3 separate regions of the Homo sapiens genome follow, and regions 1 and 3 are each linked to region 2. Evidence: fine-mapped expression QTL. A gene starts in region 2. Each other region holds a variant in brackets. All regions are shown on one strand. Distances are between the middles of the regions. Region 1 holds the start of EFNA3 (ephrin A3). Region 2 holds the start of EFNA1 (ephrin A1). Region 3 has its middle 11 kb from the start of DPM3.

Region 1 (8,000 bases), 53 kb after region 2:
AGACACCCCCGAGTTTCCTAGACGCCCACAGAGTGCGTCCCCCTCTCCGTCCCCTCCCAGCCCCCAGCTCTGGTCTCCCAGGACTCCCACCCCGGGATCCCCCAGGACTTCTCGGGCCCACCGGCTCCCCCTCTCACTGAGACGGGACGCGCGGACTCCCAGGGTCCCCGACTCACTGCTGGTTGGAGCTGTTCCAGTACACCGCATGCCGGTTTCCCAGCGCCCCTCCGGGCCCTTGGGCCAGCAGCGGCAGCAGCGGCACGGGCACGAGCAGCAGCAGCAGCAGCAGCGGAGCCGCCGCCATCCCCGGAGCCGCCGCCGCCGCCGCCCCCCGACTGAGCCCCGCGCTCCCGGCTTCTCCGCTTCCCAGCTCCCTGCTGCCGCCGCCGTCGGCCCCCAGCCTTAGGCCACGCCCCCAGCCCTTCCCTCCGCCCTCCTGGGCGCGCCCCCGAAGCCCCGCCCCTGGCGCGCCCCCGACAGGCCCCGTCCCGCTCCGGTCGGGAGCGCGCGACGCGTGGGAGGTGGGGACCGTACTGCCCCCTCGGGAAAGACCAGCGCGTGCCTCGTCTCTCCTTCTTGAGTTCAGTTTGCTACAACTGGTCCTGGGTCTTTTGCTCCCCAGGCTGAATTTCCCAGAAGGATTTGGGAACCCAAGATAAGGATCTCGATCTCAGGGAAGCCCAATCATCTCTGGGAATGAGGGGAAGGAGAAGACTTGAGAAGAAGTTGGGGATCCAGGACCTCTTAGTAAGTAGGGCTGGACCCCTTCCCTTCTGAAAACTGTGGCCCTCTGCTGCGTCCATGCCCCCTTTTCCCGTGTGCATGAGGACTCAGGTGGGCACAGAAGGGTGGTGGAGAAGTCCTCAGCTGGCACCAAGGCTTTGACAGCTGGTGACCTGAAGCCCCCAGCTGAGCATGAGGCTTGTTTATCTTGGAGGCAGAGTAAAAGAGCTCAGCCCCTGAGAATGTCAATACTGGGAGCTGTAAGAGTCTTCAGTGGTCCAGAACCCAAGGCGCAGGAGGGGGTCAAGGAGAGAGTCAGCTGGGGCAAAGCAGGGTTCCCTGGACACCTACAAAGGATTCCTCACTGGCACTTAGGCAGGGCCCCTCCCGGGGCAGCCAGGGTTGTCCCCAGGGATTCTCACTCCTACTCTCAGAGACGCTGATCCTGAGTCAGAGGGCAGAGCACCTTGTGTTCCAGCTCTCACCACAGTCATTGTCCTCACAGTGACACCCAAGCACACACATCACACACACACATTCAGGAAAAAAGGCACAGTCACCCAAAGGCAGAGAACATAGAGACACAGGTGCCTGACACAGACATATGGACACACAGGTACACCTTCCAGACACACATAGGAAAGGGTACTATCAGACTGCTAGAGATCAGGCACAGAGACACCCAAGCACACACCTATATCCATCCACACACAACACACACACAAACCCACATGCATCCTGACACACACAGTTCCTTGCTCTCCTCTTCTCTCTTTCTAGGAAGTAGAAGTTCAGGAAAAGGGTTCAGAAACCAGACCTAGGGCTATCTGTCCCTTATCTCTTCTCTTTTGGAGAGGCCCAGACCAGGCGGAACCAGGCCTGACTGGGTTCTCAGAACGCAAGCCAACCACCTGTGTCCAGGGAGACAGGCATGCTGCTACTTTGCTTCTATCCTTCAGGAGAGGGAACATGCAGGCACCTCCCTATCTGCTTATCTGTGGCAGGACAGAGTCTTGACCACAAGTCAGCCTCAGGTGCTAGGCTGGGGGCAGGGGCGGTGCTATCCAGAATAGGTTCAGTGTCTGACTGCTGCCAGGTGAGAGTAGTCTCTGTTTTCTCTGGGCTCCTCTCCACCCCAGGAGATCTCTTCTTCCTTCTCAGGAGCCAGCAAATAAATTAGGCCCCTTGGGATGGGAGTGGGGGACTCTGCAAACAGCTCTCCCTCCCTGCAGGCTCCTCATCCCCAGAGAGATTTGTTTCACCCAAATGATGCTAACCTGCTTACTCCAGGTGCCACAAATCCCAGCCCCCTCCACTCAAATCATATTCCCTGCTCCACAAGGGCAGCTTCTCTCTGTAGGGGCCCACAGTTGGCAGAGACGCTGCTCATATTGATAGTGAACAGGAACTTGCTGGTTTGGTCTAGGACTTTAAATTCCATTTTAGAAAAGATATATCCCTGTTTATCGAATCTAGGTTCTGCTTAAGAATTTGGGCCTTTTTCTATAGGGCCTGGGTACTCTTTAGAATCTGGCACCCCCACACCCACCCTCCAATAATAACTGAGCCCTTCTCTTAGAATCCGGAGCCCTCTCTACAGGATTTAAGCAGCTCTCTCTATGGAGTCGAAGCCTCTGGTTTTGAAGTTGAGATACTCTTTATAGGGCCTAGCTAGGCCTGTGTCCGTGGGATCTAGTGCTTTGTCTACCTGGGCCTCTATCCATAGGGCTGCTAGCTGATTTGGGCCTTTGTGTGAATTAGAAAAAGGACCCTTCTTTGCAGGCTCAGTCCCTAGGGTGCATCTCTTGGCAAGTGGTGCCTTTGTGCAAAAACAAAGGTGCTGCCTCCTTCAGTGAGAGGTGGCTCTAGTGGCTCCCTGTCTTAGTGAGGGAGCTTGGGCCGATGTCCCCTTCCCCTTGGGTGGCTCCTTTGTGCCATGCACAAACTATATGACCATATATGGCAATTCTGTCTACAGGATATGTGCTTCTAGCTATAATGCCTATGTCTGTCTATAGGCCTCTATTCATAAGGTCTGGGCTTCTCTAGGGACTGAGTCCCTGTGTATAAGATCTGAGCCACTGTCCACATGCCCAGGGCCTAATCTAAAGGCCTGGGCTTCTCTCTGTGGCATGTGAGTCATGGAAGGACCCAGGCCTTATTGATGGGGTCTAGACGTTTGGGTATAAATGTAACTCAAATTGTTTCTGACTGTGATCCACCACAGTAGGATTATATTTTGCACTGCAGTTCAGTCACACACACACACACACACACACACTCATACACACACACTCATACACACACACATTTAACTGAAATAATAAGTTTCATGAAACAATACTTACCCTTACTACAGAGGATGCACGATGATATTTTCCTCTGTTCTAGTTTTAAAATTAAAAACAATAAAATAAAAAGCTGGTTGAAGCCCATAAAATTGACTTCTTGACTTTACCATCCCCACTATAGATCACAACCTATAGTGTGAAAAACTGGTGTCTAAGGCCTGGGCCCTGAA[C/T]GACCTCTCTGTTGGATGAGGGCCTCTGTGGAGGTTGGAGCTCCCTCCATGGGGCTGGTCCTGTTTTCAGGGCTTCAGGCCTCCTCCTCCTTACCTGCAGGCTCTGACTCTTGGGCTTGCTAGCACACTGCTGGCTGCCAAGATCTCTCCCGGGACACTGAGCTCAGCTCCTGGGAGGACTCTGACATGGTGCCTCACTCTCCTCCATCCCTCAGGGGCCAAGGAAGCAGGGAGCTGAGCAGGTGTGGGACAGAGGGAGCTCTCAGGCTGTGTGGCCGAAGGCAGCGTCTGGGACAGTAGGTGGCAACCACAGAGCTGAGCTGTGTTCAATAAATCATGGAGGCTAGGGCCTGGGGAAGGGGGAGGTCAGGAGGGAAGCGGGGCCATGGATAAATAATTCATTAAACAAATAAACAAGGAGCCTGTGAGAGGGAAGATCAGGCACACGTGTGAGCAAGAGAGGCAGCTGCCAGCTCCAGGCATGAAATATTCACAGGTTCTGCACCTTGCACAGGGCCCGTGTGTGTGGCCCCAGCCCAGGCAGGCTGTTGGTGCCGTCCTAACCAGGAAACCTGGGTCCCAGCAAGTGTGTGTGTGTCGGCATGGCTCTGAGGATGCTCTAACGTCTGTGAGTTGACATGGAACTACATACAAGCCTGACAGCAGGGAACATAAGCACTGGTATGTGGTCCAGTTCACAGGAAATTAGGATGCAGGGCTTGGTGGGTGGCATTGGGGTGTAATCACCTCTGATTCTGGTCATGTCCTGATCCCTCTAATGAGTCCAGCAAGCCAAGAAGCCTGGAGCTCTGGGGTGTTACACTAGAGGTGTGTGTGAGTCCTCTGAATGTATTTCAAGAAAAGCTGAGAGGCAGCAGTATTGGCTTAGCAGTGAACAGCCTGGGCTTGGATTCGAATTCCAGTTCTGCCACTCGCTAACTATGCTAGTCACTCAACTTCTCTGAGACTGCTTCCTCATCTGTAAAATGGGGATAATAATGCCCCACCTCAGGGAGCTGGTAGTTAAGAGGATTAAGATCCATAATACCTGGGAAGCACTTAACACAGTGTTTAGGATCCCAGAGGCACTGGATTAATGGAGGGTTTCTTATAATTAAGAGGTTATCTACTGAGGTCTGCCCACCTAGACCAGCCCAGACTCTTTTCCATTTGTTCTCCCTCATTTCCAAGCTTTCCTAACAGCTAACATAGGGAGAGATGTGACCTAGGGCTTAGAAAGTATGCAAGGGGTAGGAAAAGATTAGATGGAATGAGAAGAGGAGGTTACAGTCAAAAAAGGAAGTCTCTATTCTTGACAGTGTGGAAGAAGGGACCTTGACCTTCTCCTCAGACCCCAGAGACTCTCCTTAAGCCTTAAAAGTCTTCCTAAATCCAGACTTTCACCAAAGTTTAGCTCTCTAGAAAGTGACTGCAATGGCCGGGTGGCTCACACCTGTAATCCCAGCACTTTGGGAGGCTGAGGCGGGAGGATCACGAGGTCAGGAGATCGAGACCATCCTGGCTAACATGGTGAAACCTCGTCTCTACTAAAAATACAAAAAATTAGCCAGGCATGGTGGCGGGTGCCTGTAGTCCCAGCTACTCGGGAGGCTGAGGCAGGAGAATGGCGTGAACCCGGGAGGCGAAGCTTGCAGTGAGCCGAGATCGTGCCACTGCACTCCAGCCTGAGCAACAGAGCGAGACTCTGTCTCAAAAATAAATAAATAAATAAATAAAAGAAAGTGGCTGCAATGCCCATGCAGTGGCTCACACTTGTAATCAATCCTAGCACTTTGGGAGGCTGAGGCAGGAGGATGACTTGAGTCCAAAAGTTTGAGGCTGCCATGAGCAATGATCACACCATTGCCCTTCAGCCTGAGCAACAGAGTGAAACCCTGTCTCTTAAAAAAGAAAGGAAGGAAGGAAGTGGCTGCAAGGAGGCAGAGAGATTGGAGCAGAGGTCTCTGAGTAGCATCATAACCACCACCCCCAACAAGTCTTCCCTGCCAGAGTTCTGGCCCCCACCCTCTGCCTAGTGGTTGAAGGCTTCCTTGACAAAAATGATTGTGTCTGGGCAAAAACCAGAAGAGTGGCACCCCAGAGTGGGTGGGGAGAATCCAGGATGGAGAGAGCCTCAGAGGGCCAGGGTGGAGTATCTGGCGGCCTCCCAGTAGGTCCCAGCATTCCCCAGCCCTCTGTGTCCCCTGGAAAGGATCCGCTCCCTGTGGGAGAGCCAGCAAACAGGTCTGAGCTGGCCTGCTCCTCCACAGACAGAAGAAGAACAGGTTGGGGGAGGGGGCCTGAGATCTTGGTGGGGAGTGGTAGCGGTAACCCCCATGTCTCCTCTGAGGAGTTAGGGACAGAGGGGACTAGAGCCTGGGCACACCCTACAAAGCCAGGGGCCCAACCCTTCACCTTCTTTGGTCAGCCTGCTGCCACTTTGGGAGCCAGGGGTCTGGGCCCCCAGGTGTGAAGATGGTGCCTGCCCACCCTTTCCCAAGGAGCCAACATCAGTCTCCACTTCCCCTCCCCTGGGCTGGGCAGGTTCAGGCCAATCTGCTGAAGAGCTTCACAGCAAACATTGATCTGTAATAAAACCACAATGTGTTTCAGGAGAAGGGATTCCAGACACAACACACATACACTAACTCACACACATACATACGGATGCAAAACATGCCGCTCTGGGAGGGCAGACACCAGCAGTCCTGAAAACACATCCAAACATAGACCCACACTGTGTCAAACCCACAGACATTATTAGTTCTACACATCCCCTCTCTGCCATATACTTTGTCCTTCAAAATCAAAGCCTTCTCTGATGACCCGTTTTCCCTGTGTTCCCATAACACTTCGTATATAGCTCTATATTAGCATTTTCACTTTGCATTATAATTACTCATTGGCCAGTCTGTCTCCTTGGGTAATCTGAAGATCCCTTAAGGGAAGCGATCTTGTCTTATGCAAGTGTGTGTCCCCAGCATCTAGTATGCAGCCTAGTATTTACTTAGTAGGAGTAGTGAGGTGCTTAATAATTGTTGAATCAAGGAACAAAAGAATAAATGCCTTCTGACAGTGGGACTCCCATTTCTAGAATCCTTCAGAAGCCCACAGTAGAAAACCGTGCATGCTACTCAGGCTTCTGACCCTGCCTTCTTTTCTCTTGGTCCCCTCACCACCACTCAGCTCTCCAGAAGCCCTCCTTTCCTTCCCTTCCCTCAGTGTGAGACCACGAATTTGAGTTCAACCTGAGGGTTGGCAGGCAAGGTAAGGGTTAATGACACCTCATTAGTGTTTAATTGGAGGAAGGAAGCTGCCTTGGCACCAGACAGGTGGGCAGGCCTGCCCCTTGCTGGAACCAGGCATCCCTAGTTCCAGCACCCCGCCAGGCATGTGGGTGATTTGGCCCTGGAGACCCTCCACCCAGCCGGGGCCAAGCAGTATAGACTAGTACTCCCCATCTGTCACCAAACATCCAGCGGGAGAACAAACTCCTTATCCTTTCTTCTGTTGCTGGCTTTGCCCCATCCGTCCCCAACAGACACTGGAGAATGGGAGAGGTGGGGTATGAAGGTGGAGAACTGAGGGACAGATTACAGAGCCACTCAGGGATAGATTCCAGAAACAGACAGGCGACAGGGCTGGGGATGTGGAGATGTCTGCCCAATTTGACCTTAAATGAAGAGAATGCAAATGAGATGCAGACGATATGCAGATGAACACAGGATCTCAGTACTGACATTCCTGGTGGCAGCAGCTCTGCACCCCAATGCTGTTGCCAATAACCAACCTACTCCTAATCTTTCTGCGTTAAGTGGTGCTGACCATTACTTTGAGAACGAAAAAGGATCTCAAGAGAGATAAGAGCTTGCTTGGGCTAGGGCTGCAGGACCTGGGAAGCTGAGCTCCACCCCAGCTTCCTCACCCCATCCCAAGCACCCACCCAAGCTGCCACAGCAGCTCAGGCAAACATTACTCTCCAGGTTGCACTCGGACGCACCGTCGGTTGCTATGGGGACCCCTTCCTCACTTCCAGACCTGAACCAATGGGCATCACCGCTGATGACCTCATGCCCCAGGCCCCGGGATTCTATTGGCTATTTGGAAGCCAGAGCGCACCCTTTTCAATGGCGTCACCGCTGGGGATCCCCCGACGACCCCAGCTAGCGTCTGGCCTACTGAAAGAAAGGCGCGCTGGAAGCTCACAATGTGCTGAGTGAATGAAAAAGGAAAGAAGGAACTAATAAAAGGGAAGAAGAAAAAGGGGGGAGGTGACAGAAAAAGAACAAAACTTCAGGGTTGAATCTGGAGAAGAAAAGGGAGATTTGAAACCCCAGAAAGTGTGGAGCAGGATTGCCCGTCGCAGAGACTCTCAGGCTCTCAAACAGGGAGACAGGGCGAGGTAAAGATGAGTGGAGTTTTCGCATCTATTCGGGAGAGACTAGGGCAGGCCCAGCAAATTGAGGGCCCCACCCTAAGCCGCCTAGCGCTACTGAGTTTAGGGGAGATCGGTGACGCCCCAAAACTTGCAGGCCTGCCCAGCCTCCTGGAACTGCGCCCTGGAACACGCCTCGACTTCTCGTGGGTAAGGCCCGGTGCCTGGAAGACCTCCCAGCGCCTGCAGCCCGTCTCGGCCCCATGAGTGGACTCAGCCCTGGCTTTCCATGGGGACGCGCCCCGGGACTGAATCAGCCGCCCGCGCATGCTATGAGGAAAGTTGTATAGGGAAGGCCGGCTGGGCCTGAGCGCCTGTGGC
Region 2 (8,000 bases):
AGGTAGAGGTTGCAGTGAGCAGAGATCACACCACTGCACTCCAGCCTGGGCGACAAGAGTGAAACTCCATCTCAAGAGTAATAATAATAATAAAATAAAATAAAATAAAACCCATCAGTGGCGAGAGCCCTCAGGATAAAGTCCAAACTCCTTATCACCTTTTAGTTCCCCCATGGTCTGTTCTGTCCACCTCTCCAGGCTCACATCTCCTCACTTCCTGTGTCCCTCCAACTCCAGCCAGGCTGAGCCACAGGAAGTTCCCTGAAGATGTCATGCTCCCTTTGTACGTGTGCCTTCATGCCTGGCCAGCTCCTCTGCTTGTCCTGAGCTCTGGGACCATCTTCCCCACTGAGCCTTCTCTGAGCCCCATAGCCTGGCAGGTGCCCAGGTCATTTTCCCAAGGCCCCTGTGTTCATGTCTACTGTAGCACACTGTTCTAAGGGTCTCTTAACCTATGTGTGTTTCTTCCCAGCTTCCTTGAGGACAGGGGCTCTGTAGTGTTTTATTTATCTTTGTGCTCATAGCGCTAAACAGAGTGCCCAGCACATAGTAGAAGCTCACTCACATTGGGATGTAGATGAATGAAAATAGAATTCAAGATCGGAAGGGGCCCTCTGCTGCTGGACTCTACACCAAGCATGTACCCAAGCATGTATGTAATGGCAAAAAAGAAACACAGACACTGTCCCCTCACAGGCACTCACAGATGTAGTAGTAGCTGTGTCCTTCTTTGAACTCCTTGCCCAGGGTGAAAGGTGTGAAGCGCTGGAACTTCTCAGACAGCTTCTCCGGGCCATGCTTGGCACTGGGCCGGTTGCACTGCCAGCGGACTTGGTCCTTGGACTGGGGCTGGCACAGCTGGTACTCCTCATGCTCCACCAGGTACAGTATGTACTGCTCCATGGCAGCGTCTGCCACAGAGTGATCTTCATAGTGCGGACAGATGATGTCCACGTAGTCATTCAGCTGCACATGTATGGTGTAGTCCTCATTCCGGAACCTGGGGACACACACAGGGGGAAGAAGCAGGTGGTCATTCAGAAGCCAGGCCAGATCCTTGGGCCTCTGAATGTTTACATGACCTCTCACATTTCACACTGGACCCCAAGAGATTTTTCCGAAGTTTCAACTCCCAATATGTACTGATCTTGATGTCTTACATTTCTCTCTGCCATCTCTAAACATTCCCCTGCACCATCACTGTCTCCTGTTGGTCCTTCAAATAGCATTCACTCAGTATCTTTCGGGTACCAAAGCATTTTCCATAACCCCCCTGATACTTACCTGATATTTAGATGGGCTTCTACCTATTTCTGTAGCTCACTTATCATTCTCTTCTACCCATAAATATTTCCCCAAATCTGTTCTACCAGTTGCTCCTTTTAAATGCTGTTAGGCCTCAATCTGAGACCCCCACAGGTCCATTCTGTAATCAGAATCCAGGAAACCCTTTCTCTTTACCATGCTAGCCTGGAGCCTCCAACACATCTGTGTCTTCACTTTCCTTACTCCTCTCACATTTCCCCGGACCCACTGAGTAGATCTCACATTTCCCAGCTTCACTTTTCCTCAAAAGTGAAGCTAGTATACCCGGGCCCACAGATAATGCCCCAGTCCTTTAAGTTAAATCACTCTCATCAATTCATTCAGCCCCCTCAAATCTTCCCGTTCTAGCTACTCAAAGTTATACACTGGTCTCCTTTTCCCCTTCTCAGAGCACCCCAAAACAACCCTGTCCTTTTATCTCTAAAAGCCACACTTCCACCTCCCCCTAGATGAAATGCTGGAGCTCTGAGCTTGAGCTTGAGACAGCCTCTCCCCTCTCCCCTCTCTCCCCTCTCTCCTCCTCTCCCCCTCTCCCCTCCTCTCCCCTCCTCCCAAGGTGGAGCCAGCACCCCTCCCCTAGTTCATTCCCCCTGGCCCCACCGGCTCCAGCCTGACTGCCCACCAGCCCCTCCCCACCAGCTCCAGACACCTGGCTCCAGCCTGGGTGGGGTCCCAGTAGGGGGAAAAGTGCTTCCCCCGACCCCGCAAGCTGGTCAGTTTCTCTAATTCCCCCAGGCACTGCCAGCTAGAGACCCAGCAGAATTAGCGCTAAGTTGCTTCGAACTGAAAGCCCTGGCCACGGCTGGGAGGGCGAGGAAGGAGTCAGGCAGAGAGGACTCGGAGGTGGGCACCCACTGCCCAATCAGCATGACCCCTGAGAGGCCAGGCTTTGCAGCAGCGTGCCAGCGCCCAAACTGGGCTTACCAGGCCCCTCCCCCACCCTGGGGAAAAGAGAGGAGCAGAGAGAGGCTTTTAAAATTCCTCTCTGGAGAGATAAACATAGAAGCCATTTCAGAACAGGTATTTCAGCTCTGGGCCTGGCGTCTTTCCCTCATTCCCGTGACGGGCACTGACTCATTCCTCATCCACCTCTGCTACCCGCCCCAGCACTCATGAGAACTTGTGAAAACTTACCTTGTCAAATGTGCACAGCCCCCAGGACCCCAGGAGGGCACAGCGCCCACTCACCCCCAACAGTGTCCTCCAAACAAAGGGAGCTGGCAGGTCAGAATGAGGGGCCTGCCCTCCAGCATGAGGGAGGCTGGCGCCCTTCTCAGCATGCTGCCCCCGCCTGAGGCCTGGAGATCCCAGGGCTGCTGCCCACTGGCCTGAGTCACCCATGCCAGCCTCACCTACCCCGTTCATTGTAGCCTCATATTTGCCCCCACGCTGGGCCCAGCTTGGCTGCCTACGGACTCTACTCTGGACTGGCGTCTCTTTAGTCCTGGGTATGATAGGGTGTGCGTGTGTGTGTGTGTGTGTGTGTGTGTGTGTGTGTGGCCAGAGGGTCACCCATCAGCCCCCTCTCCTGGGGGTACAGTCTGCTGTACTTAGCCTTCATTTGACTCTTGCTCCCCATCTGGGAAAGGGGGGCAGCGGCGTCAGGGAAGGCGGGGAGGTGGGTAAGGAAGAGGCTCCTTCCTGAAAGAGAGGAAACCTGGGAGCTTGGGAACGGAAAAGGCCAGGGTCCCCCCCTCCCTACTCATGGCTTCCTGTCCCCTCCTCCTCCTCCAGTCAACACCTGGCATGGGCATAAACAGGGACTTTGCTCTCTCCCATACTAGGGCGAGATGCATCAGGTCAAGGAGGCAAAGCACAGGGAGCGGGTGGCGGAGGGCTGGCTGAGCCTCCCCAGCGTCCATGGGCAGGAGGGCATTGCCCTCTGGGGTTGGCAGCTGGCTGTTCTCTCCCCCACCCTAACAAGCCACAGACAACAGACTGCCTCACCAGACGATGACACGGGGTCAGAGGAAGCTGGCACAACATATTTCTCAAGGGGAGTGGGGGGCAAGCTTGCTAGGGCCGAGAGTGGCTAAGCCGGTGAGATGGCTTTCGTGATACCAAGCTGCCCACTTCTCTCCCTGCTCCTCCCTACCACCCTCTCCTGTATTCCCTCAAATATTGTTCCCATAACTTCAGAAAACTCAAGGGCAAGAACAAAGGGGCCGACAGAGTCTTCCTCCCAGTACCATTTGCCTCACAGCCCTAAACCTGCCCAGGAGAAATTAACTCCTTCCTGCCCAGAACCTTCTGTAACCCCTTTAACCTCTTCTGTTCATTCTGAAGCTTTCCCATGATCTCCCTCTCCCAGCTCTTCGCTTTTACTACTTGAGAGCCCCATAAACAGGTGATTCCCTCAGCCTACCCATGCACAGCATGTGCCTCACTCATGCCACCCCAAAAGACCCCTAGTGAGGGACTTTCCAGGTTTGCTTTAAATACAGGGTGAATGCATAATGAATGCCTACAGCCCAGCTCTCTCCTGAGAGGTCCTTCCAGGGTTACCTTGAGCATTCTGTGCACTCTTGATGTCACACCAGGTATCTGTCAGTGTGGTCAGATACCCAAAGGACACACAAGGAGAGGCGTGGAGGCTTTCACAGTGGGGGGGTGGGGGGCCTGGAACAAGGGCCCTGGCTGCCAGGGGCGAAGTCTATGCTGAAGGCAGGAACTGCCCAGCATGAGTCCCTCACTTTAGAGTAATAGGGGTGCCAGAGAGAAGGAAGGGAAGGGCAGATATAAGCCCATGCAAGTAGACACAAGCATGCCCCGGGGTGGGGTGCTCCCAGATATGACGGAGAAGTGAGGGGAGGAAAATCTACAGCCGCCCTCCTACCTCGGTCATCTACTCTAGGCTCAGCTCAGGGTTTGGCCGGGACAGTTATCCCGGTGGGGTAGTGCCAGCCGGGAGCCCAGGCTGCCAGCGGGAGTCTCGAGGCTTACTTGGGATTTGAACTGTTCCAGAAGACGGTGTGGCGATCAGCAGCGGCCAGACTGCAGCACAGACCCAAGAGAGGGGCCCAGAGGAACTCCATAGCGCGGGGCCTGGCCAGGCCGAGCGGGGACGCGGGTCTCCTATGGGTCTGGGTTCCCACTGGCTTTCTCCGCGGCGCAGTCAGCGCTGGGCTCACAGATCTGGCCCCTTCGCCTAGCGACTCCGCCTTTTGGGCCGGCGCCGCCCGACACCCCGCCCCGCCCTCGCCCCGCCCGGCGCGCGGCTGCCTGGGGGCTTGGGGGCTGGGGAGGTGGAGGAGGGGCGGGGTGGGGAGGCGAGGAGGCTGGGGGTGCAGGAAAGAGCGAAGCGCGCTCCTCTGCCCCCGCAGATCTGCTCAGAGATGTGTGTTCGCTCACTTGTGGGTCTGCGTGGAGCTTTGTGAGCCTGTCCCGGTGGTGGGCTTGCGTCCCTGGGCGCAGTCGCGTGCGGGAGAAGGGAAGAACTCGCAAGTGCGAGTCTGCGAACGCGGGGGTGCGGGACACGGCTTTGCTGCTCCGCGCGCGGACCTTGCAGGGTGCGAGGTTGTTGACATGCCCCGCACCTTTCTGAGCCTCGCATGCCCAGGCTCGGGCGCCCGCGTTCCCACACTCTCCTCCTCCCCCATCCCCTTCCCGGACTCTGCGCTTGACTGCCCCTCCCCACACACACGCGGCTGTTTGTTTTTGTTGGGTTTGTCAATGTTGTCTTTGTTCTGGAGATTGTGTCATCGCCTAGATGCCGGGAATAAAGTGCAACGCTTTGTGTGATCGAGTGTGTAACGTGTGCGGCCGGGGCTAAGGACGCCTCTGTCCATCACATCAGTGCCTGCCCGCAGGAGCGACACGCGGGACCCTGGGCTCGAGAGGGGGCCGTTCTTATTTTAGATAAGTCAAAGAGCGCTAATAACCTGAGTATATGTAACAACACACGCGTACACCGTGCGAACAGGCTCTTGAATATGGACTGTGAGAATCTGGGCATGAAGGGTGACAAACTGTAACCACACATGAAATACGTGTGATGGCGCGCTAGCATGAAAGCATTTGTGAGTAGTATCACAGCCGCGTGTGTGGAAGCGTGTGAAACTCTTTGACAGACGTATGCTAATGTTTGTGAACAGCGTGTGAAGAGGAGGGGAGACGCGTACCGGCGTGCAGCGGGGGTGGGGTGGAACGGAGGGGCGTTTGTGCGCAGTCCTCAGGCTGCACAGCTGGAGCTGGCCCAGTCTGAGCTGGGGCTCCCAGTCAGTCGGGCCCCAGTACCCGGCTCAGGCCCCCTCCCCCGCGCTGTGTAAACAAACCCACTGGAATTTGCCTCTCGGGGCTCTTCTCCCCGCCTGGATCTGCTGCCGTCTGGAGAGGGCTTGGCGGGCGGGTGTCAGCTCCTGGGGTGGAGAGGGCGGGCAGGTGTTTGATTAGGCTCACGAGTGAGCCTGGAGTGGGAGAGCCGAATGCTGTGTGTCTGCGTGCGTTTGGTGGTTTACGTGTGTGGTTGTGTGGCTGTGTGCGCGCCAGGTTGGTGTTGTGAGTGTGTGTGCGCATCCTCAGCCGGCCCTTCCCTGCGGCTGCGCATCGCGGGAAGCCACGGACCCGGGGCCCCTGGCCAGCTCCGGCCCAGCTTCTCCAGTTCCCAGGCCGTTTCATCCTCCTATTTTACGGCCAGGCCTGGCTACAGCCCCTGTAATTACGCGGGGCCCGGACGCCGCAGCAAGTCTGGCGCTGACCCCGCCGGGGAGGAGCCTGGAGCTGGGGAGGGCCCAGCCGGCTCCCCACTGCACCACCACGTGCGCTGAGGCCGCTGGAGGCCGTATTCGCTGCGTTTACAATAAACATAGAGTACCAACGGCCTCTAACCCCGTGGCCGGGTCAGGGCCGGGTTTTGCGCACGGCCAGCGCCACCCCCCTCTCCCTCGGGCACCTGCCCCAGGCGACGTGCCCAGCCAAGCGTTTGTCCGAGGTGCGGCCCGCTCCTCTCGCCCAGGACGAAGTCCACCCGCCGACTGCTCCCAGGGCGGCACCTCACGCGCCTTTTGCTCACCTAGGAGGACACCTGGGTGTCGACCTCCCACGTGGCCCCGGCGAGAGTACTGCCTCCCAGTTCGGGCATTCCATAGAGTCAAAGCTCCAGGAGGACATGGGTTTTTGTTTTGTTCATTATCTTACTGCCAGCACCTGGCACAGCATCTAGCACATACAGTAGATGGTCAGTAAATATCTGTGGAGTGAGTGAAATCACTCACTGTTCAGTGAAGGAACTTAACTTCTGCTGGACATAACTGTTCTGAAAAGGAGCCAGCAGGGGGGTTGAAGAGGGGAGGGATGCTGGTAGCTCTTTAGAGCAGGTGGCCCGGGTTGCCTCCTGGAGGAGACAGCTTTGGGCCGGATTCCCTGGTTTCTCTGACCACTGGGACTGGGCGGGGACGTGTGAAGTCCCACGCTGCAGCTGCTTGGGCCAGGCAGGTTCGGGCTCGCTGGGCCCAGTCTGGCGGGGCCACGTCAGCTCTTGCCTGCGTCTAGGTCTGGAGCAAGCTGGGTGCAGAAGCGTGCATGGAAATTCTGCGCACCGACAGGACCCGGAGCCCTCTTTCCCTGCTTTGGTGCTGTCCCCAGTATTCTCATCTCACTTAGGGCATTGATCCCATCACTCTCTATCCACTCCCCTATCCATATGGGGGTCGATCATCCACCCTACTGGAGCAGCCCTAGACACTGAGTGTTGTGATGAGCTGGGTGTTGCGATGGGCACCGAGAGTGTAAGGATGGGTTTAAGATAAAATCACTACCTTGGGGAGCCCCCAGGCCGGTAGGGGATATTGACAAGCCACCAGGACAGCAAACTTGCTAAGTGCTCAAGCCCAGACTGCGGCCCTACCACTCACAGTCACACTACCCTGACCCTTCCTGGAGCCCCTGCAATGCCTGCTGTGCTGAGAGGAGAGTTGCAGGGCACTGTGCCATTCAGACAGAGATAATAGTAGGGACTTCTGTTCCTGGAGACTCGATCTGCTGACCAACTCTGGGGCCCCCTCCCAGTCCCTTCCTCATGCCAGCCCCCAGCCTGCCCGGGTGGGTCTGCTCTCCATTCTTGCTTCGTGCTGCCTCTCGCCGCAAAATTGTGTGCTTGTGTTGGCTCCCAGCACGTCACCCGCAGGCAAACATCTGCGCTTAGTGACGAGAGCTGCCTGAGGTGTCTGTCTGTCTGCCTGTCTGCATGTCTAGGAAATTCCTCCATGAGTCCTTTCTGGAAATTCCTGGGAGGGCAGGAATTTCCTCAGAGGAAATTCCTCTGAGGTCTTGGGGTAGGCCCTGGCTGCCTGGAGGCAGCATTTCCAGTTGGGAACAGGTGCAGGTACTGGATTGCGACTCCTTTGCTGGGTGCCCTGCAGTTTGGGGAGGGGAAGGCCAGAGCTGCAGGGCCCTGGGGCAAGTGAAACCTGGCTCAGCCCCAGGGGTCATCTCTGGGCAATGGGGTGAGGCAGCAGGGGGAGGAGCAGAACCTGGGCTGAGAGCAATCTCTGTCGTACTCCCTCAAGGTCATTTTGAAACATAAAGTATACCCTTCCCCACTTTATTAGTAATGTGCACACATTTTTCAGAAGTTGGAAAATAGGCCGGGCACGGTGGCTCACGCCTGTAATTCCAGCACTTTGGGAGGCTGAGGCGGGTGAATCACTTGAGGTCAGGAGTTTGAGACCAGCCTG
Region 3 (10,839 bases), 23 kb before region 2:
TTTCTGTTCCTGGCTTATTTCACTTAACATAATGACCTCCAGTTCCATCCATATTGTTGCAAATGACAGAATTTAATTCCTTTTTTATGGCTGAATAGTACTCCATTGTGTATATGTGCCACATTTTCCTTATCCATTCATCTGCTGATGGACACTTAACGTGCTTCCAAATCTTGACTATTGTGAACAGTGCTGCAACAAACATGGGAGTGCAGATATCTCTTTGATATACTGATTTCCTTTCTCTTTTGGTATACACCCAGCAGTGGGATTGCTGAATCACATGGTAGCTCTATATTTAGTTTTTTTGAGGCATCTGTAAACTCTGCTTGCACTAATTTACATTCCCACCAACAGTGTAGGAGGGTTCCCTTTTCTCCACATCCTTGCCAGCATTTATTATTACTTGTCTTTTGGATATAAGCCATTTTAACTGGGGCAAGATGATATCCCATTGTAGTTTTGATGTGCAGTTCTCTGATGATCAATGACGTTGAGCACCTTTCCATATGTCTGTTTGCCATTTGTATGTTTTCTTTTGAGAAATGTCTACTCAAATCTTATGCCCATTTTAAAATCAGATTATTAGATTTTTTTCCTAAAGAGTTGTTTAAGCTCCTTATATATTCTGGTTATTAATCCCTTATCAGATTGCAAATATTTTCTTCCATTCTGTGGGTTGTCTCTTCACTTTGTTGTTATTTCCTTTGTTATGCTTTTTAACTTGATGTGATCTCATTTGTCCATTTTTGCTTTAGTTGCCTGTTCTTATGGTATATTACTCAAGAAATTTTTGCCCAGACCAATGTCCTGGAGTTTCCTCAATGTTTTCTTGTAGCAGTTTCATAGTTTGAGGTCTTAGATTTAAGACTTTAATCCATTTTGATTAGATTTTTGTATATGGCGAGAGACAGGGGTCAAGTTTCATCCATTTTTTTTTCCTGTGCAATCTGCCTCCCTTGTTTCATTCTTCTGCATATGAATATCTAGTTATCCCAGCACCATTTATTAAAGAGAATGTTTTTTTCCCCAGTGTATGTTCTTGGCACCTTTGTCAAAAATGAGTTTACCATAGGTGTATAAATTTGTTTCTGGGTTCTCTATTCTGCCATTGGTCTATGTGTTCGTTTTTATGCCAGTTCCATGCTGTTTTGCATACTATAGCTCTGTAGTGTAATTTGAAGTCAGGTAATGTGATTCCTCCAGTTTTGTTCTTTTTGCTCAAGATAGCTTTGGCTATCCTGGATCTTTTGTGATTCCATACAACTTTTAGGATTGTTTTGTCTATTTTCGTGAAGAATGTCATTGGTAGTTTGATAGGGATTTCTTTGAATCTGTAGATTGCTTTGGGTAGTATAGACATTTTAACAATATTGATACTTCCAATCCAGGAACATGGAATATCTTTCTATATTTTTGTGTCTTCTTCGATTTCTTTCATCAGTGTTTTATTCTTTTTCTTTCTTATTTATTTATTTATTTATTTATTTTTGAGATGGAGTCTCACACTGTTGCCCAGGCTGGAGTACAGTGGCGTGATCTCCTCTCACTGCAACCTCTGCCTCCTAGGTTCAAGTGATTCTCCTGCCTCAGCCTCCTGAGTAGCTGGGACTACAGGTGCACACCACCACCCCCGGCTCATTTTTGCATTTTTATTAGAGACAGGATCTCAGCATATTTGCCCGGCTGGTCTTGAACTCCTGGCCTCAGGTGATCCACCTGCCTCGGCCTCCCAAAGTGCTGGGATTATAGGCATGAGCCACCGTGCCCAGCCTTTCTTTCTTATTTATTTTTGTAGAGATGGGATCTCACTATGTTGCCCAGGCTAGTCTCAAACTCCTAAGCTCAAGCAATCCTCCCACTTTGGCCTCCCAGAGTGCTGGCATTACAGGCATGAGTTACAGCTCCCGGCCTCATCAGTGTTTTGTAGTTTTCATTGTAGAGATCTTTCACTTCTTTGGCTAAGTTAATTCTGAGGTATTTAACTTTATTCATGGCTATTGTAAATGGGATTACTTTCTTGATTTCTCTTTCAGATTGTTAACGATTGACATAGAGAAATGCTACTGATTTTTGTATGTTGACTTTGTATCCTGCAACTTTACTGAATTTGTTTATCAGTTCTAATGTTTTTTTCGTGAAGTCTAGGTTTTTCCAAATATAAGATCATATCACCTGCAAACAAGGATAATTTGACTTCTTCCTTTCCAGTTTGGATGCTCTTTATTTCTTTTTTCTTTTTTTTTTTTTTGAGACAGAGTTTCGCTCTTGTTACCCAGGCTGGAGTGCAACGGCGTGATCTCAGCTCACTGCAACCTCTGCCTCCTGGGTTCAAGCGATTCTCCTGCCTCAGCTTCCCAAGTGGCTGGGATTACAGGCATGTGCCACCACGCCCAGCTAGTTTTTTATTTTTAGTAGAGACGGGGTTTCTCCATGTTTGGTCAGGCTGGTCTCGAACTCCTGACCTCAGGTGATCCGCCAGCCTCGGCCTCCCAAAGTGCTGGGATTACAGGCATGAGCCACCACGCCCAGTCCTCTTTATTTTTTTCTCTTGTCTGATTGCTCTAGCTAAAACTTTCAGTACTATACTAAATAACAACGGTCAAAGTGGGCATCCTTGTCATGTTCTAGATCTAAGAGGAAAGGCTTTCAGTTTCTCTGCAGTCAGTATTTTACTAGCTATGGGTCTGTCATATATGGCATTTAATATGTTGACGTATGTTCCTTCTATATTCATTTTTTGAGGGTTTTTATCATGAAGTGATGTTGAACTTTATCAAACATTTTCTTAGCATCAATCGAAATGATTATATGGTTTTTGTCCTTCATTCTGTTGATATGATGCATCACATTGATTGATTTGCATAAGTTGAACCATCCTTGCATCCCCGGGATAAATCCCACCTGGTCATGATGAATGATCTTTTTAATGAATTATTGAATTTTGTTTGCTAGTATTTTGCTAAGAATTTTTGCGTCAATATTTATGAGAGATATTGGTCTGTAGTTTTCTTTTCTTCATGTGTCTTTGTCTGGTTTTGGTATCAGTAACACCAGCCTTGTATAATGAATTTGGAAGTATTCCCTCCTCCTCTATATTTTGGAACAGTTTGAGTAGGACTGGTATTAGTTATTCTTTAAAATTTTTTTTCTTTTTTGAGACAGAGTCTTAGGCCGGGCATGGTGGCTCACGCCTATAATCTCAGCACTTTGGAAGGAATCCCAGCCTGGGCAACAGAGTGAGACTGTCTTGGTTTTTTTGTTTTTTGTCTTTTATTTGGAGATGGAGTTTCGCTCTTGTTGCCCCCAGGCTGGAGTGCAATGGCCCAATCTCTGCTCACTTGCAACCTCTGCCTCCTGGGTTCAAGCAATTCTCCCGCCTCAGCCTCCCGAGTAGCTGGGATTACAGGTATGCACCACCATGCCTGGCTAATTTTGTATTTTTAGTAGAGACAGGGTTTCTCCATGTTGGTCAGGCTGGTCTCAAACTCCCAACCTCGGGTGATCTGCCCACCTCGGCCTCCCAAAGTGCTGGGATTACAGGCGTGAGCCACCGTGCCAGGCCTAATTTTTGTGTTTTTAGTAGAGATGGGGTTTCAGCATGTTGGCCAGGCTGGTCTCGAACTCCTGACCTCACGTGATCCACCTGCCTTGGCCTCCCAAAGTGCTGAGATTACAGGCGTGACCCATCATGCCTGGCCTCTTTCTTTCTTTCTTTTTTTTTTTTTTGTTTGAGACAGACTCTTGCTCTGTCGCTTAGGCTGGAGAGAAGTGGCATGATCTCTACTCACTGCAACCTCTGCCTCTCGGGTTCAAGCTATTCTCCTGCCTCAGCCTCCGGAGTAGCTGGGATTACAGGCATGCACCACCACGCCTGGCTAATTTTTGTAATTTTAGTAGAGACAGGGTTTCGCCATGTTGGCCAGGCTGCTCTGGAACTCCTGACCTCAAGTGATCCACCACCTTGGCTTGCCAGAGTGTTGGGATTACAGGCGTGAGCCCCTGCGCCTGGATTTTTTTTTTTTTTTTTTTTTTTTTAATAAAGACAGGGTCTCTCTATGTTGTCTAGGTTGGTCTCCAACTCCTGGGCTCTAGCAATCCTCCCACATTGGTCTCCTAAAGTGCTGCGATTACAGGCATGAGCCACCATGCCCAGCCTACTGGGAGACTGTATTACAGCTCTGATCTCGTGACTTGTTATTGCTCTATTTGGGTTTTGGATGTCTTCATGGTTCAATCCTGGTAGGTTAGATGTATCTAGGAATTTATCCATTTCTTCTGGATTTTGCAATTTATTGGCATATAGTTGCTCATAGTAGCCACTAGTGAGCCCTTGAATTTCTGCGGTATTAGATGCACTGTCTCCTTTTTAATCTCTGATTTTATTTATTTGGGTCTTTTCTTTTTCTTTTCTTAGTCTGGCTAAACGTTTGCCAATTTTGTTTATCTTTTTAAAAAAACAACTTTTTGTTCGTTGATCTTTTTTATTTCATTTATTTATTTATTTTTTGAGATGGAGTCTCACTCTGTTGCCCAGGTTGGAGCGCAGTGGCGCGATCTTGGCTCACTGCAAGCTCCACCTCCCAGGTTCAAGTGATTTTCCTGACTCAACCTCCCGAGTAGCTGGGATTACAGGCACCCGCCACCATGCCCGGCTATTTTTTTGTATTTTTTGTAGAGATGGGGCTTCGTCATCTTGGCCAGGCTGGTCTTGAACTCCTGACCTCATGTGATCTGCCCGCCTGGACCTCCCAAAGTGCTGGGATTACAGGTGTGAGCCACTGCGCCTGGCCTGATCTTTTTTATTTTATATTTTTATTTTTATTATTTCTTTTTGAGATGGAGTCTCACTCTGTTGCCCAGGATGGGGTGCAGTGGCACGATCTTGGATCACTGCAAACCCTGCCTCCCAGGTTCAAGTGATTCTCTTGCCTCAGCCTCTGGAGTAGCTGGGATTACAGGTGCATGCCACTACTACCAGCTATTTTTTGTATTTTTAGTAGAGATGGGGTTTTCTTCATTTCAAATTCATTTATTCATTTCTTTCTTTCTTTCTTTCCTTTTTTTTGGGGGGGTGGGGGAGAGAGGGGACAGAGTCTTACTCTGTTGCCTGGGCTGGAGTGAAGTTGTGTGATCTCAGCTCACTGCAATCTCCGCCTCCCGGGTTCAAGCAATTCTCCTGCCTCAGCCTGAGTAGCTGGGACTGCAGGTGCATGCTGCCACAGCCAGCTACTTTTTTGTATTTTAGTAGAGACAGGGCTTCACTGTGTTGCCCAGGCTGGTCCCAAACTCCTGAGCTCAGGCAATCTGCCCCGCTTGGCCTCCCAAAGTGCTAGGATTACAGGCGTGAGCCAATGCGCCCGGCCCAAATTCATTTATTTCTGATCTGAACCTTATTATTTATTTTCTTCTCCTAATTTTGGGTTCAGTTTGCTCTGCCTCTTCAAGTTCTTTAACATGCATCATTAGGTTATTTGGTTGTTTTTCTTCTTCCTCTTTTTTTTTTTTTTTGAGAGGAGGGTCTTGCTCTGTTGCCCAGGCTGGAGTGCAGTGTCGAGAATCATGGCCAACAGCAGCCTAGACCACCCAGGCTCAAGTGATCCTCCCACCTCAGCCTCCCAAGTAGCTGGGACTATAGGCACACACCACCCCGTCTGGCTAATTTTTGTATTTTTGTAGAGGCAAAGTTTTGCCATGTTGCCAAGGCTGTTTTTCCTCTTTTTTGATGTAGGCACTTATAGCTATAAATTTCCCTCTTAGTACTGCTTTCACTGTATTCCATAGGTGTGTTAGTAC[G/A]TTGTGTTTCTATTATCATTTGTTTCAAGAAATTTTTCAATTTCCTTCTTAATTTCTTCATTGACCCACTGGTCATTCAGGAGCATATTGTTTAATTTCCATGTATTTGAATAGTTTCCAAAATTCCTTTTGTTATTGATTTCTAGTTTTATTCCACTGTGGTCAGAGATGTTTGATATTATTTCAATTTTTTTGAATTGAATGTTTTAAGACTTGTTTTGGGAGTAACATATGGTCTATCCTTGAGAATGATCCCTATGCTGAGGAGAAGAATGTGTGTTCTGTAGCCATTGGATGAAATGTTCTATAAGTATCTGTTAGGTCAATTTGTTCTGTAGTGCAGATTAAATCCGATGTTTCTTTGTTGATTTTCTATCTGGGAGTTCTGTCCAATGCTGAAAGTTGGGTGTTGAAGCCTCCAGCTGTTTATTCTTTTTTTTTCCCCCAAGCCTAACTGTATCCAGTTTTATTAAAGATACTTTGCATAAACAATCATGGTATTTCAGGCAGGACATGGGCAGACAATCATTAACAGTATACAACAACTTTCAAACTCCCTTCTTCAATGGACTACCAGAAATCAGAAAGCCACTATAAAACCCAATGAAGTCTTCATCTGATGATCTGAACAGGGAAAGTTTAGAGTGAGAGTTGACATTTCACATTTAGCATGTTGTTTAACAACTTTTCACAAGTCAACCCTGACTTTCAGGAAGTGAAATTAAAATGGCAGAATTTATCTGAAGATCTACAATCTAGAAACAGAACCACTACTTTTTTTTTTTTTTTTTTTTTTTTTTTTTTTTTTTTGAGAGGCAGTCTCGCTCTGTCGTGCCCAGGCTGGAGTACGGTCGTGTGATCTCGGCTCACTGCAACCTTCGCCTCCCAGGTTCAAGTGATTCTCTTGCCTCAGCCTCCCAAGTAGCTGGGATTACAGGCATCCGCCACCACACACGGCTAATTTTTTGTATTTTTAGTAGAGAAGGGGGTTTCACCATATTAGCCAGGCTGGTCTCAAACTCTCGACCTCAGGTGATCCGCCTGCCTCGGCCTCCCACAGTGCTGGGATTACAGGCGTGAGCCACCACACCCCGCACCATTGCTCTTTTGACAGGTGCCATCTCAGTGACATCACTGGAAAGTCCAGATTGCCTGACACACTAGTAACCAATGATTGGAGGTCAGGTTCCAATAGATGTCTGGGCTTAAGGGAGTTAAGTCTATGCTGAAAGATGGAAAGGGAGAAGAGGACATAAAAACAAATTTGCTTTTCCCTTTCACAAGGCTTTTGTGCCAAGGTGGCCATGTGTGTCAAAGTCAGGGAATCCCTCCTCCTGGGAGCCAAGAGGAAGTCTCTCGGAACTAGAAGGAAAAGACGATTTCCCCATATCAATCCAGCTTCAGAGACATTCTATTAGTGACATTTGCTCCTTCTCCTAAAAGCAACAATGAAGTGTTCTGTGTGCTAACAACATAGCTTAAAAAAAAAAAAAAAATCTGGGCCGGGCGCGGTGGCTCACGCCTGTAATCCCAGCACTCTGGGAGGCCGAGGTGGGCGGATCATGAGGTCAGGAGATTGAGACCATCCTGGCTAACACGGTGAAACCTCGTCTCTACTAAAAATACAAAAAATTAGCTGGGCGTGCTGGCAGGCGCCTGTAGTCCCAGTTACTCGGGAGGCTGAGGCAGGAGAATGGCGTGAACTTGGGAGGCGGAGCTCGCAGTGAGCCGAGATCACGCCACTGCACTCCAGCCTAGGAGACAGAGCGAGACTCCGTCTCAAAAAATAAAAATAAAAAATAAAAAATAAATTTAAAAAATCTGCATTTTTATAAAACTTGATACAAAATAGTATTTCAAACTGTACACTCACCAGAAGTACACAGTTATCAAAAATGCACACACTTCCTCTGGCATCTCCAGCACCTTCAGCTTTCTGTTCCTGGTCTGTTTTGGCATCTCCATTTTCTGCAGGGTTATTCCCCTCCTTTCCAGCATCAGCTTTTCCCTTCTTCTCTTTGAGTACCTTCTCTCCCTTCTTTGCAGGGGCCTTTTTAGGCTTGGGCTCTGGCTTTGGAGAAGAAGGTTTAGCAGACAACCTCGCGGATCTCCTTTGTGGTTCGTCCTTCACCTTGGCTTTATCTCCTTTAGGATCCCCTTCAGCCTTTCCCTTGGGCATGGTGGTGGCAACAGCGACGGGATGTAGGCGCTGGGCACGCGGGTCGGTCTGGGGGTCATTCTTGTATCTTCTTCTTCTTCTATTCTTTAGCTCTAATAATATTTGCTTTATATATATGGATGCTCCACTGTTGGCTGCATATATATTTATAATGATCATAACCTCTTGCTGAATTGACCCCTTTATCATTACATAATGAGCTTCTTTGTCTCTTCTTACAGTTTTATCTTGAAATTTATTTTGTCTAATATAAGTATAGCTACTCCTGCTCTGTTTTGGTTTCCATTGGCATGGAATATCTTTTCCCTTTATTTTCAGTCCTATATGTATCTTTACAGGTGAAGCGTCCAACAGAAATACTTTTATTTTATTTTTTTGAGACAGAGTCTTGCTCTGTCACCCAGGCTGGAATGCAATGGTGCAACCTTGGCTGACTGCAACCTCCACCTCCTGGGTTCAAGCAATTCTCCTGCCTCAGTCTCCCAAGTGGCTAGGATTACAGGTGCATGCCACTGTGCCCGGCTAATTTTTGTATTTTTAGTAGAGACAGGGTTTCACCATGTTGGCCAGGCTGGTCTCGAACTCCTGAACTCAAGTGATCTGCCCGCCTCGACCAACCAAAGTGCTGGGGTTACAGGCATGAGCCACCTCGCCCAGCCCACACATACTTTTAAGGGGTCTTTAATCACTTGACCCTGGCCAGCTTTTCCAACCTCATCCTTGCCACTGCCCCCATGAAACATTCTTTGTCTCAGACACAGCCACAAAAGATTGCCCACCATGAACTTTCAGGCCTCTCATTCAAGCTGTTCCCTTGGCCTTACATGCCCCCTCCCCTCACCTAAACAACTCTTACTCATCTTTCCAGTATCAACTCAGGCTTCTGGGCCTCTATGAAGCCTTCCCTCCAGATAGTCCCTTCCTTCTCTGTGTTCTGTTTAACTTTGCATATCCTTTTATCTTCAGTACAGAGGCTCTTAGATTTGGAATTTGTCTTCCAAATTGTTTGACTGGGCTCAAGCAATCCTCCTGCCTCAGGCGCTGGAGTAGCTAGCACTATAGGCATGCTCTACCATGCCAGCTAAAATTTACATATATATAATATATGTATCTATTTAATAGATACATAAATATGTATCTATTTAATAGATACATATTTAAATATGTATCTATTTAATAGATACATATTTAAATATGTATATATTTTATAGATACATATTTAAATAAAATATATATTAAAAAAATTTTTTTTGAGACAGAGTCTTGCTCTATCGCCCAGACTGGAGTGCAGTAGCATGATCTTGGCTCACTGCAACCTCTGCCTCCTGGGTTCAAGCAATTCTCCTGCCTCAGCCTCCTCAGTAGCTGGGATTACAGGCGTGCACCACCACACCCAGCTAAATTTTGCATTTTTAGTAGAGATGGGGTTTCACCATGTTGGCCAAGCTGGTCTCGAACTCCTGACCTGGTGATCTGCCCACCTCAGCCCCCCAAAGTGCTGGGATTATAGGTGTAAGCCACCATGCCCGTCCATTTTTAATATTTTTTTTTATAGAGACAAGGTCTCACTATGTTGCCCAGTCTGGTCTCAAACTCCTGGCCTGACACGATTCTCTTGCCTTGTCCTCCCAAGATGCTGGGATTACAGGTATGAGCCACCATGCCCAGCAAAAGCCCCAATTAAAAAAAAAATTATTATTATTTTTTTAACCATGACACAGCCTCAGGAGGTCCTGATGACATGTTCCCCAAAAGCCCCAATTTTTAACTCCCAAGCTGCTCTGCCTCTCATATCCTATTGTAATCACATGTACTTCATCCTGAGGTGGTAGTGGAAGGGTAATGATCTGCAGAAAGACTGAAGAGAAAGGAGTTGGACTGTAAGAATATTCTGTCTCTTGTCCAGTGCTATCCAAGGCCAAACACCCTGTGTCTGGCAGACTGGGGTCTCTGGAGTAGTTGTATTTCCTGGGACCAGGAAAGCTAGCTCAGTTTTTCTGGAGACCATCTAATGCCAAACTGTCCTTCTCTCTCTCGCTCACTCATCATACATTTATAGAAACCCGGCTACATTTCCCACACTGTGCTTGATCTTGGGAATACAATGGTCCTGGGGGCAGGACAGGCAGAGAAAGAAAACCCCTACAGCTCAACATGGTTATTGCCATGAAAGTCAATAAAAGAAAGTCAGTGAGAGCAGGAGGAGGGAGATGGGGGCCAACCCTGCAGGACAGAATCAAGGCGCAGGAAGGCTGCCTGGGAGACATGATACTTGAGCTGAGCATTAGAGAAACATGCACCACATTTGCTTGCAGCATATTTAGAGTTTCACTTTTTACATTAAAATTGTTTTGGGCGGGGCCCGGTGGCTCACACCTGTAATCCTAGCACTTTGGGAGGCCAAGGTGGGCCATCACAAGGTCAGGAGATCGAGACCATCCTGGCCAACATGGTGAAACCCTGTCTCTATTAAAAATACAAAAATCAGCTGGGCATGGTGGCGTGTGCCTGTAATCTCAGCTACTCAGGAGGCTGAGGCAGGAGAATCGCTTGAACCAGGGAGTCGGAGGTTGCAGTGAGCTGAGATCATGCCACTGCACTCCAGCCTGGCGACAGAGTGAGACTCCGTCTCAAAAAAAGAAAAAGAAAAAGAAAAAATTGTTTTTATTGCTCTGGGTCTTTGTTTTGGTATAAGATGTGAGGTTCAAATCTACCTTAATTTTTTTTCAAATGGTAAGCTAGTTGCAAATGCTTTTCAAACAATCCATCTTTCCTCACTCACTCAAGATGGTGCCTCTATCATATGCTACATTGGTATATATGCCTGATCTATTTTCTCTTTTTATTATGTTCCATCAATCTAG

What was found. PIP is the estimated chance that this variant, and not a neighbour inherited with it, causes the effect.
Region 1: its variant is fine-mapped to the expression of EFNA1 in whole blood (TOPMed, PIP 0.99).
Region 3: its variant is fine-mapped to the expression of EFNA1 in blood mononuclear cells (TOPMed, PIP 0.99).

What each region holds. Positions count from the first base shown.
Region 1 is chr1:155,071,246-155,079,245 of GRCh38, reverse strand. The region is part of intron 1 of EFNA4-EFNA3 (EFNA4-EFNA3 readthrough); the gene reads right to left. It overlaps EFNA3 (ephrin A3), which reads right to left and starts at 409. Exons shown (of 5, transcript NM_004952.5): 1 at 177-409. The coding sequence starts at 304. RefSeq lists silencers at 151-300, 331-490 and enhancers at 7,166-7,678, 7,754-7,833. The variant C/T (reference allele first, on the strand shown) is at 3,245.
Region 2 is chr1:155,124,339-155,132,338 of GRCh38, reverse strand. EFNA1 (ephrin A1) reads right to left here and starts at 4,463. Exons shown (of 5, transcript NM_004428.3): 1 at 4,270-4,463; 2 at 705-1,000. The coding sequence starts at 4,361. RefSeq lists silencers at 4,513-4,572, 7,352-7,646 and enhancers at 5,769-6,608, 6,609-7,448.
Region 3 is chr1:155,145,680-155,156,518 of GRCh38, reverse strand. It overlaps the pseudogene HMGN2P18. Among named protein-coding and RNA genes, the nearest start is that of DPM3, 11 kb to the right of the region's middle. The variant G/A (reference allele first, on the strand shown) is at 5,797.